Linked DNA regions of Homo sapiens: region 2 is linked to region 1. The links come from fine-mapping of genetic effects on gene expression. A gene starts in region 1. The other region holds a variant in brackets. All regions are shown on one strand. Distances are between the middles of the regions. Region 1 holds the start of PIK3CB (phosphatidylinositol-4,5-bisphosphate 3-kinase catalytic subunit beta). Region 2 overlaps PIK3CB (phosphatidylinositol-4,5-bisphosphate 3-kinase catalytic subunit beta).

Region 1 (5,530 bases):
TAAAAATAAATAATTTATTTATTGGGGCCAGGCACAGTGGCTGACGCCTGTAATCCCAGCACTTTGGGAGGCCAAGGCGGGAGGAACACGAGGTCAAAAGACTGAGACCATCCTGGCCAATATGGTGAAACCCCATGTTTACTAAAAATACAAAAATTAGCGGGGCATGGTGGTGTGCACCTGTAGTCCCAACTAATTTGGAGGCTGAGGCAGGAGAATCGCTTGAACCCGGGAGGTCACAGTGAGCAGAGATCGTGCCATTGCACTCCAGCCTGGCGACAGAGAGAGACTCCATCTCAAAACAAACAAACAAACAAAACAGAGGCCCATAAGACTGGGTAACATCCCCATAGCCCCAGCTGTTTTTACCCAGGTTGAGGCCTAAAACCAAGAGGTGACTTCTGACTCCCAGCCTTTTCACAGTGGCTAGCAGTAGTTCTACTGTTGAGTTCAACAGTCTAAGCTAGACAACTGGGAAAACCTCAAGAAAGAACATAATTTAGACTACAGTGTTCATTTTTCACTTTTTTCCATATAGTTGGCTGACATTCACAAAGCAAGTTGAAGCAAAAGCCTTTATGGATGAGTCTTTAAGAACACCAAGAAAGATAGGCAAGAGGTGCAAAATGACAAATCAAAACCCGACTTGATTTTCAACACTTCTAAAAAACACTCCGAAGGTGGTGGACTCAGGGTGTGAATCAGGGGTGTAAATTAGATTTTTGCTTCTTAAGTCATTTTGGCTTTAGTGAATACAATTCCAGTTTAAACCTTTAAGATTTTTACTTTCGGCCGGTCGCGGTGGTTCATGCCTGTAATCCCAGCATTTTGGGAGGCCCAGGCTGGCGGATCATTTGAGCCCAGGAGATCAAGACCAGCCTGGCCAACATGGCAAAACCACCTCTCTACCAAAAATACAAAGATTGGGCCGGGCGCGGTGGCTTCCTCCTGTAATCCCAGCAGTTTGGGAGGCCGAGGCGGGCGGATACCTGAGGTTGGGAGTCCGAGACCACCCTGACCAACATGGAGAAACCCCGTCTCTACCAAAAAAAGTACAAAATTAGCCGCGTGTGGTGGCACATGCCTGTAATCCCAACTACTCGGGAGGCTATGGCAGGAGAATCGCTTGAACCCGGGAGGCGGAGGTTGCGGTGAGCTGGAGATCGCGTCATTGCACTCCAGCCTGGACAACAAAAGCGAAACTCCGTCTCAAAAAAAAAAAAAAAAAAACAAAATTGAAAGATTGGCCAGGCGTGGTGGCACGCCCCTGTAGTCTCAGCCACTAGGGAGCCTGAGGCAGGAGGATCGCTTGAACCCAGGAGGCGGAGGTTGCAGTGAGCCAAGATGGCGACATTGCACTCCAGCCTGGGCGACAGACCGAGACCCTGCCTCAAAAAACAACAATAATTTTTTTTTAAAAAAGAAGCAAGATTCGGTCTCAAAAAGATTTTTTTTTTTTCTTTTTGAGACAGGGTATCCCTCTGTTGCCCAGGCTGGAGTCCAGTGGTGCCATCTCGGCTCACTGCAACCTCCGCCTCCCGGGTTCAAGGGATTCTCCTGCCTCAGCCTCCCAAGTAGCTGGGATTACAAGCGCCCGCCACCACGCCCTGCTAATTTTTGTGTTTTTGGTAGAGACGGGGTTTCACCATGTTGCTTGGGCTGGTGTCGAACTCCTGGAATCAATTGATCCGCCCGCCTCGGCCTCCCAAAGTGCTGGGATTACAGGCGTGAGCCAACGCACCTGGTCAGAAAAAAGACTTTACTTTCTTCCATACCTGCATTCTGAAACTGGGTTAAGATCCTTATCTGACCACCCTTTCCTGTGCTACATTATTATGACTTAAACAGTTCTGCTTTTACCATAAAATCTTACAATGTAGCATAAAAATCCCCAAATGATTAATGAACTGCTGAGACCTCTGACTCGTTGGAGACAATTTTATTACGAATCATATCTCCAAACTTCCATTCAGTGCTTCAAAATAAGTACTCATTTAATTATCATGACTTCACCAGACAGTCACACTGCCCACAATGATGTTTACAAAAGCACTTGTCACTCCCTTTGGATGTAGCAATGCAGAAAAAAGAGTCTGTTTCCATACTCTTCGTGTGTTTATAACTCTGTAACAAGTGGCAGAGTTCAAGTGTCACTTGAGATGAAACAGCAAAGCACTTCAAGTTTACGTCCCACCATCTTTCATCCTAAGCGAATCCCGAATTTGCTCGGTTTCATTTCAGCAGTAATTCCCACTCAGTACCTGAGACAGGGTTCCAATTCAGCCCTGCGGGAAGAGACTGCAGGATTCTAGTAAGGGACTATAGGATTCTATTTTGGCCACTGCGAGGTTAACAGGCTCCAATATTAAGCAACTCCAGTATCGGTTACTGCAACACCAGAGCAGATCGGAAATAAATGTGCCCCCAAACGCACGCCAGCAGCCAGGAATTAGCAATAGCTAACACGAGATGCTGCAGCAGGGGTATCATTTACTTAGCACTTGTTCAGTTATGCCTAACCTCACAACAACCTTATGGTGTATGTATTATTATTTCCATTTAACACATCAGGATATTTTGGCCCAAGGCCCCAGGACTGGTCAGCAGCGGCGTTGGGATTCGAAAACATGTCCATAACCTAATAACCCTGGGTCCACGCCTCTGAAATACACTTCTGCGCAAAAAGGCACCTGAGGGTCGGGAAGTTCCGGAGGTGTCCGCATAGACGCGGGGCGCGAGTACGCCGTCTCTCCACAGAAACGCCCCTCAGGAACGGGACCCAAAGCGACAGTGACCCGGGACGCCCGGCAGCGTCTCTGCCGCCCAGGGGCCGGGGGGCGCCACTCACCTTGGAGAGCCCAGGGCGGGCCGCAACCAAGCCAGACGCCCCCACCGGCCGGTAGGCGGTTATCCTCCAAGCTGGCAGGAAGCGCGGTGCAACCACAAGAGTCGCCAGCGCCGCAGGTAGCGGCAAGCTAGAACGCACCGCCAGCACGCCCGGGGGCACCGCAGCCGGCGCCGCGACCCAGCCGCCCCTCAGCCGCGCCGCATCCGGGTCCCGGCCGCCGCACTCACCTGCCTGGCGTTCCGCCGCCGCCGCCTGCTACTATTCCAAGTGCGCAGTCAGCAGCCCAGGCCGCCGCAACCGCTCCACTCCGGCGCCCCCATCCCTGCCTCTCTCGATCACCTCCCGCCTGCCCCGCGCAGCACTACACTCGCCCCCTCCCCACTGCCATGGCCCGCTCCGCCGCAGCGCCGCACAGGCCGACAGAGCACGCGCGCGCCGCCGCCGAACCCGCGCCCGTGTGCGCGCGCGCCAGCCTCTCAGGCCTGCATCCCAGCAGCCCCCGCCCCGCCCTGCGCCGCCCTCGGGCCAATCCCGGGCCCCGCGGTGGCGGCGGCGGCGGCGGCGGCAGTTGGGCTGGCAGGGTGTGGGGAGAGGCCTCACTGCCGATTCCTCTACCGTTGCCAGCCCGGCTGCGACGCTGCTGCACGGCCTTTCCTAACTCTCTTTGCGACTCCCAGAGGACTGCGGAATAGGGAATCCCCGGCAAGTCGCCTTCAGGAGAGACCCATCACCCGCTGCGGCCTCCATAACCTCCTCCCGAGAGATTCCGCTCTTCCTAGGTTCCTTGCTGGCCTTTTCTTCCCAGCCCTTCTCCCTGTTCTGCGACATGGACTGACTCCTAAATTCTTGGACGCAGCACTTATTTTTTTCCCGATACCCGTCTCCGTCTTTCACTCCCTTTGTGAGGATAGGGCGCTAGCTCGGCTGCCTCACAGCTGGCCCTTCAGTCCCTACACTGTGAATGGTTGTTTCTAGGGAAAAGTCCAGGCTTTCAAGCCCAAGATTCTTGTTCTTTGTTCAATTTTGCAGTAACAACACCTAACATTTGTCTGCAGAGCCTTAAACTTTACCCCTTTTTGCCTACCTTGTTTCCTGTTACCTTTGACCCCAACCGCGAAAAATCACAGTCCTCTTTCTAGTGGGACACTTAAATTTTACTTACTGAAAACCAACATTTTAACTCACTCCAAAGCTAGTATATTCTAACGTAATGCTCCTATATTACCCTGGACAAATAGTTGAGTAGTCAGGGATAAAATCTAGAAGTACAACATAATAAAAAGCAAACGTGACAAATCAATTAAGTGACAAACCAATAGTTTATTTGAGAAATGATCCTAGTTTTTTTATTTTTTATTTATTTACTTATTTTGAATGAGAGTTTCGCTACTGTTGCCCAGGCTGGAGTGCAATGGCGCGATCTTGGCTCACCGCAACTCTGCGTCCCCCGGTCAAGCGATTCTCCTGCCTCAGCCTTCCTGAGGATTACAGGCATGCGCCACCACGCCTGGCTAATTTTGTATTTTTAGTAGAGACGGGGTTTCTCCACGTTGGTCAGGCTGGTCTCGAACTCCCGACCTCAGGTGATCAGCCCGCCTCGGCCTCCCAAAGGGCTGGGATTACAGACATGAGCCACCGTGCCCGGCCAATGATCCTGGTTTTAATTGACTTTCGATTTAAAGCAAGAACATTGAAAAATAAATTCCAGAAGAGGCTGTAATACCAACACTTTGGGAGGCCGAGGTGGGCAGATCACTTGAGCCCAGGAGTTCACACCTAGCCTGGGCAATATGGCGAGACTGACAAAAATGACGTGAGTGTGGTGATGTGCATCTGTTGTCCCAGCTACTTGGGAGACTGAGGTGGGAGGATAATATGAACCCAGGAAGTCGAGGGAAGTCGAGGCTGGTGTGAGTCGAGATAGCACGGTAGCACCACTGCACTCCAGCCCGGGAAATAGAGCAAGACCCTGTCTAGGAAAAAAAAAAAAAATCCAGAAGAATTAAAAAATATAAAAATTTACAAAACAGAAACTTAAGAGGAAAAAAAAATTTTTTTTTGAGACAGTCTCATTCTGTTGCCCAGGCTGGAGTGCAGTGGCACCATCTCAGCTCATGGCAACCTCCACCTCCCAGGTTCAAGCAGTTCTCTTGCCTCAACCTCCAGAGTAGCTGGGATTACAGGCACCCGCCACCACACACGCCTAATTTTTTTTTTCTTTTTTTGAGACGGAGTCTTGCTCTGTCGTCAGGCTGTAGTACAGTGGCACAATCTCGGCTCACTGCAACCTCCGCCTCCTGAATTCAAGGGATTCCCCTGCCTCAGCCTCCCAAGTAGCTGGGACTGCAGGCGCGCACCACCATGCCCGGCTAATTTTTTGTTTTTTAGTAGAGACGGGATTTCCCTGTGTTGGCCGGGATGGTCTCCATCTCTTGACTTCGTGATCTGCCCGCCTCAGCCTCCCAAAAGTGATGTGATTACTGGCCAATGAGGCAGAAATTTTAAGCAAGACAGGAAGCCCAGAACCATTATAGAAAAAAGAAAAATATTTGCCTACATAAATATTTTGAAGGTTTTGCATGACCTCACAGTGATAAGTTTTGAAAAAGAAAAAACACAATAAGTTGGGAATGATGGCTCACACCTGTAATCCCAACACTTTGGGAGGCCGAGGCGGGTGGA
Region 2 (5,000 bases), 160 kb before region 1:
TCCAACTGGGTTTATGGTCCTCAAGCAGACAGTTTATTCTAATGACCTATTCCTCTTATCTATGCAGTATACCTTATGAGTGTTTGAAAAACTAGCTACCTATTCAAAGCTACTAATTCTATTTTTACACAGCTGCATTAGAAATTCCTCCTAATTTAAAAGAAAAAAATCTGTCACCTGTAGTAGCCACAGTGTCCTTTTTAGATGAATTATGATCTCTTTTCTTTATTCTAATCACAGCTACAATCCCAAATTGCTCTTTCTACCTTTACACTACTGGAAAGTGTAACTTGGAAAAACCTAAAAATAAAAAATTATTTCTTTTTTTAAAAAAAAGGAAATTTAGGTATTTTAGGCACCATTATACTCTGATAAACAAAGAGTAGTACTAGACATGTCTTACCACATTATTTTCTCACTTAGCCAGACTGGTAAAATAATAAACAGGCATTAATTTAGAGTCTGACAGTCCTGGATTTGAATTTAGCTCTGCCATTTAATATTTCTGTAACCTTTGTTTAAAACCTCTAGCATTTTAATTTTTAATGTGTTAAAAAGAAATAACATAGCCCCATAGATATGTAAGCCTATACGATATTACTTACGAGAAGAACTTAATACAATGCCTGGTTCAGTCAATAAACAGCAAGGGTTGCAAGTTTTAAAAATATATATACACATATGTTTCATAATAACAGACTATAACTGAAACTTAAGAAATTAATCAGGAGATATTATAATCTTGCAGGAACAAAGTCGATCACACGTCTAACCGTTTCCAGCAACCTTGTAGACTAAGGTTGTTGCAGATACTAAATCACATTAAAAAAATGATGAAGTCCAAAGGTTTTATAAATAGGTGTGGTTAAAAAAGAAAGAAAAAAAGACCTCTAGGTTCCAAAAATAGAGATTTCTCACAGCAGTGGCTCAGGAAGTTAGACTTGGCTGACATTTCAATGCCCACCAAAAACAGTCACGGACTTAGGCCCATGAGGTAGGATCTGGACCCGACAAAGAACTGTTAGGAATAACACTCAAAATCCTAAGGAAACTGAACACTTGAACAAAGGATTCTTAGCAAAGCAATTTTACTTCTGCGTAGAGGGGTGCCTCCTTGGCCAGTTGCCATGAGAGCACACCTGAACAAAGGGGCACGACAGCCTTTATTCCTGACGCAAGTCCTGCCTCTGCATTCTTTCCCCATTGGCTGGGGTTGGGTTGTACAATCTAAACTAATCCTGGTTGGCTAAACATCTGAATTTTTTTAGATAGGGTGGGCACATGAAGAAAAAGTGGAGAGAAAGGGGAAGGGGTGTCTGTAATGAGCTAGAAAGTTAGTCCTCTTTCTAAATAAGGAAAGGAATGTGAGCTGGTACTGATAACGCTTGGTACTGTGGTGTGCCTGGGGATCTAACAAAGGCAAAAAGGAAAAAAAAGGAGAAAAAGGAGAAAAAAAGTGGGGGGGTTCTATAAATTAACGAACAAAAGATTGATCAGATTATTTGAAGAGGAACCTCATCATATCCCACACTACACAAAACTGAGGTCTGGGAGGACTGGAACTCGAAATATCTTTTCATTGATCAGATGATGTGGCATGAAAGTTTCCCATCTACCCCAGAAACTGGGTAGGCAAGAAAAAAAAAAAGTTTCATGTAAGTGCAAAACTTCAAGCCTTCCCACACTCTCTTATGAGATCTAAATATAAACTATCTATGAGGTGTGATGGTCTGAAGGCAGGGAGTTAACATAAAAACTGGCTGATTGTGTGTACAGGCCTTTGGCAACAGCTCAAACAAAATACAAACTCATTTTTAGAGATCCATTCACAACCCAGGGAGCAAAGGACCTTTACAGAAAACATAATTATCCATCAATAATGAATTCAAAACTGAGTATTATTAACTATATAAGGAAATGAATAAAGTCACGCAGATAAATGAAAAAGTAATATCCCAAGAACTAAAAAAGAACAATCTGAAAGAGACTTTAGGCTGGGCGTGGTGGCTCACGCCTGTAATCCCAGCACTTTGACCTGGGAGATGGAGCCAGGCGGATCACCTGAGGTCAACAGTTCAAGACCAGCCTGGCCAACATGGTGAAACCCTGCCTCTACTAAAAATACAAAAATTAGCCGGGCGTGGTGGTGGGTTCCTGTAATCCCAGCTACTGGGGAGGCTGAGGCAGGAGAATCGCTTGAACCTGGGAGGTGGAGATTGCAGTTAGCCAAGATCGTGCCACTGCACTCCAGCCTGGGTGACAGAGTGAGACTCCGTTGAAAAAAAAAAAAAAAAAAAAGAGAGAGAGAGA[A/G]AGAGATGAAAAAGAATAGAAAGTCTAAGCAGAAAAAAAATACAATACAGGAGAGTAAACATTGTTGCAGAGATAATGAACTGGAAAAGAATAGGAAATTACTAAGAAAGTCACATAAAGATATGAAAAGACTCAGCCTGGTCTCAACGCCAGAGCACACAGAGACTTGAGTAAAACTGTTATAATGATAAGATATGAAAAGATAGAAAATATGGAAGGTTAAGAGACATAAAGGAGAGAACAGGAAAGTTTAATATAAATCTACTAGAGCTGCAGAAAAAGACAATGAGAGTGGGAGAACTGCAATACTGAAGGAAATGTTCAAAGTTTTCAGAAACTAAAAGATGTGACTTCTTTGAAAAGGCACAATGAAAATGGTGATAAAAAAAAGAAATAAAAGAAATACACACGCACAGATTGTACTGCAGACAAAGGCAAAGAGAAACTTTTTGATGCACTAAGGTGTAAAAAAGACATTACTTACAAAGAACCGATAACCAGACCGAGAACAGACTTTTTAAAAACCGAGACTAGAAGACAAATGAATAATATCCTCAAGGCTTCTGAGGAAAGCAGTCAATTTGGATTTCAAACTTCTATAGCCAAATGATATCAAACTCTGAATATCTACTTCTCCATAAAAGCAACAAGAATACTGACAAAAATTGTTGAAATCAACTATTTTAGAGTTCTGAAAATAAAACAAAGGCTTGCAGCAATCCAATAAGTGTTTATTTAAAACACACACACACGTACACACACACATACACACACACACACCCCAACGTGAATCTGTTTTGTTTTACCATGGCCTAGTCCCAACCCCCTTCCCAGTTATGTGGTAGCCTTGACAACAAATAGCCCACAATCATGGTGAATGCATGTCTGACAGCCACTAGAGGAAAGAAAAATGAAGTTGGAGCTCCTTCAAAGCCTGATTCCCACAGAACTGTCATTCTTTGGCCTCTCTGGTAGTTTCCAGGAAGATCCCACTTACAATACTATGTTTATTTGACCTGACTCAGACCTCACCTAGCATGAACTGCCTTTTTCCTGGGGAGTTTCTCAAAAATACTCAGAGGCATCTGTTTAACATTGTAGCTGTCTTGGGGGTAAATAACAGTTGGGGGAACCAACAAGCTAACTGAAAGCTTAAAAGGAAAAGGTAGGTAATTACATGTCCATATGGTGCACTGAAAAGCTCCAAAATTACTGGTAGGAATCTAGAAGGCCGTGTGCATGGATACTATTGTGGATTCCCAGGTCTGTGTACATGCAAAGGAAAGAGCTTACAAAGCCCTGGCTCTCAACTATGGCTAACTTTGAGGCTTTGTGAAAGCAGAAAGTTAGGGCTAAGGCACAGTTCTGAACCACCAGGCTGACTGTTGAAGGCATGACCCAACATGTGCATAAAGTGCCTCAGCAGACTGGAAGAGGGGTGGATTCCAGGCATTTAAGAAAATCAGGTCAACCATTAGCTGACCAATAAACTAAGTAAAGACATCAGTGACCACACATGACAAAAAATATAAACTTTACATAATTAGTTCAAAAAAGTCACTAAAATAAACAAACAGCCACAACGACAAATCCTGAAGGGAGAAGGAATCTGAGTTTCAGAGTTGTAAAATTATTTAAAGTGAACAGTTTTTGGCAAAAAGTATGTGACATACAAAGAAACAAAAAAGCATGGCACACATACAGGAAAAATGCATTCAATGAAACCGTCCTTCAGGAAAATCAAATTTTCAACTTATTACACAAAGATTTAAAAATCCCTATTTTAAACATGTTCAAAGAACTAAAGGAAACCATGTTTAAAGAACTATAAGGTTGGGGGCGGTGGCTCACACCTGTAATCCCAGCACTTTGGGAGGCCAAGGCAGGTGGATCACCTGAGGTCAGGAGTTCAAGACCAGCCTGGCCAACGTGATGAAACCCTGTCTCCACTAAAAGTACAAAAATTAGCCAGGAGTTGTAGTGGCCGCTTGTCATTATCCCAGCTACTTGGGAGGCTGAGGTGGAGAATCGTTTGAACCTGGGAGGTGGAGGTGTCAGTGAGCCGAGACCGCGCCACTGCACTCCAGCCTGGGCGACAGCACAAGACCCTATCTCAAAACAAAACAAAACAAAACAACTGTGAGAATGATGTATCAACAAAGGAAGACTATCAATAGATAGATATTATTTAAATGAATCAAACAGAAATTCCAGAGTTGAAAAGGGCAATAACTGAAATTTTAAAATTCACCAGGTAGACACAACAGCAGATATGAGCATAATAAAAAATTGGCAAACTTGTGGATAGGTCAATTATCCAATCAGAGAAACAAAAGAAAAAATAATGAAGAAAAAAGAACAGAGCCTTAGAGACCTGTAGAACACCACCAAGCAAAGCAATAAATGCATAATGGCGTTTAAGAAGGAGATGAGAGAGAGAGGCAGAAAAAATATATGAAAAAATTATGGCTGGAAACTCCCCAAATTTTATGAAAAACAATAATATATATGTCCAGGATGCTCAATTAATTCAAAGTAGAATAAACTCTAATAGAAGTAGGCATATTATAATCGAACTGTCAAGAACCAAAAATAAAGAGAATCTTGAAAGGAACAAGAGAGATGTGACTCATCACTTACAAGGATCTTAAATAAGATTAACAGCTGATTTCTCATGAGAAACCAGGGAA

The links.
Region 2: its variant is fine-mapped to the expression of PIK3CB in whole blood (TOPMed, PIP above 0.99).

What each region holds. Positions count from the first base shown.
Region 1 is chr3:138,831,620-138,837,149 of GRCh38, forward strand. PIK3CB (phosphatidylinositol-4,5-bisphosphate 3-kinase catalytic subunit beta) reads right to left here and starts at 3,309. Exons shown (of 24, transcript NM_006219.3): 1 at 3,076-3,309. RefSeq lists a silencer at 2,806-3,545.
Region 2 is chr3:138,670,633-138,675,632 of GRCh38, forward strand. All of the region lies in intron 19 of PIK3CB (phosphatidylinositol-4,5-bisphosphate 3-kinase catalytic subunit beta), which reads right to left. Among named protein-coding and RNA genes, the nearest start is that of FAIM, 64 kb to the left of the region's middle. The variant A/G (reference allele first, on the strand shown) is at 2,311.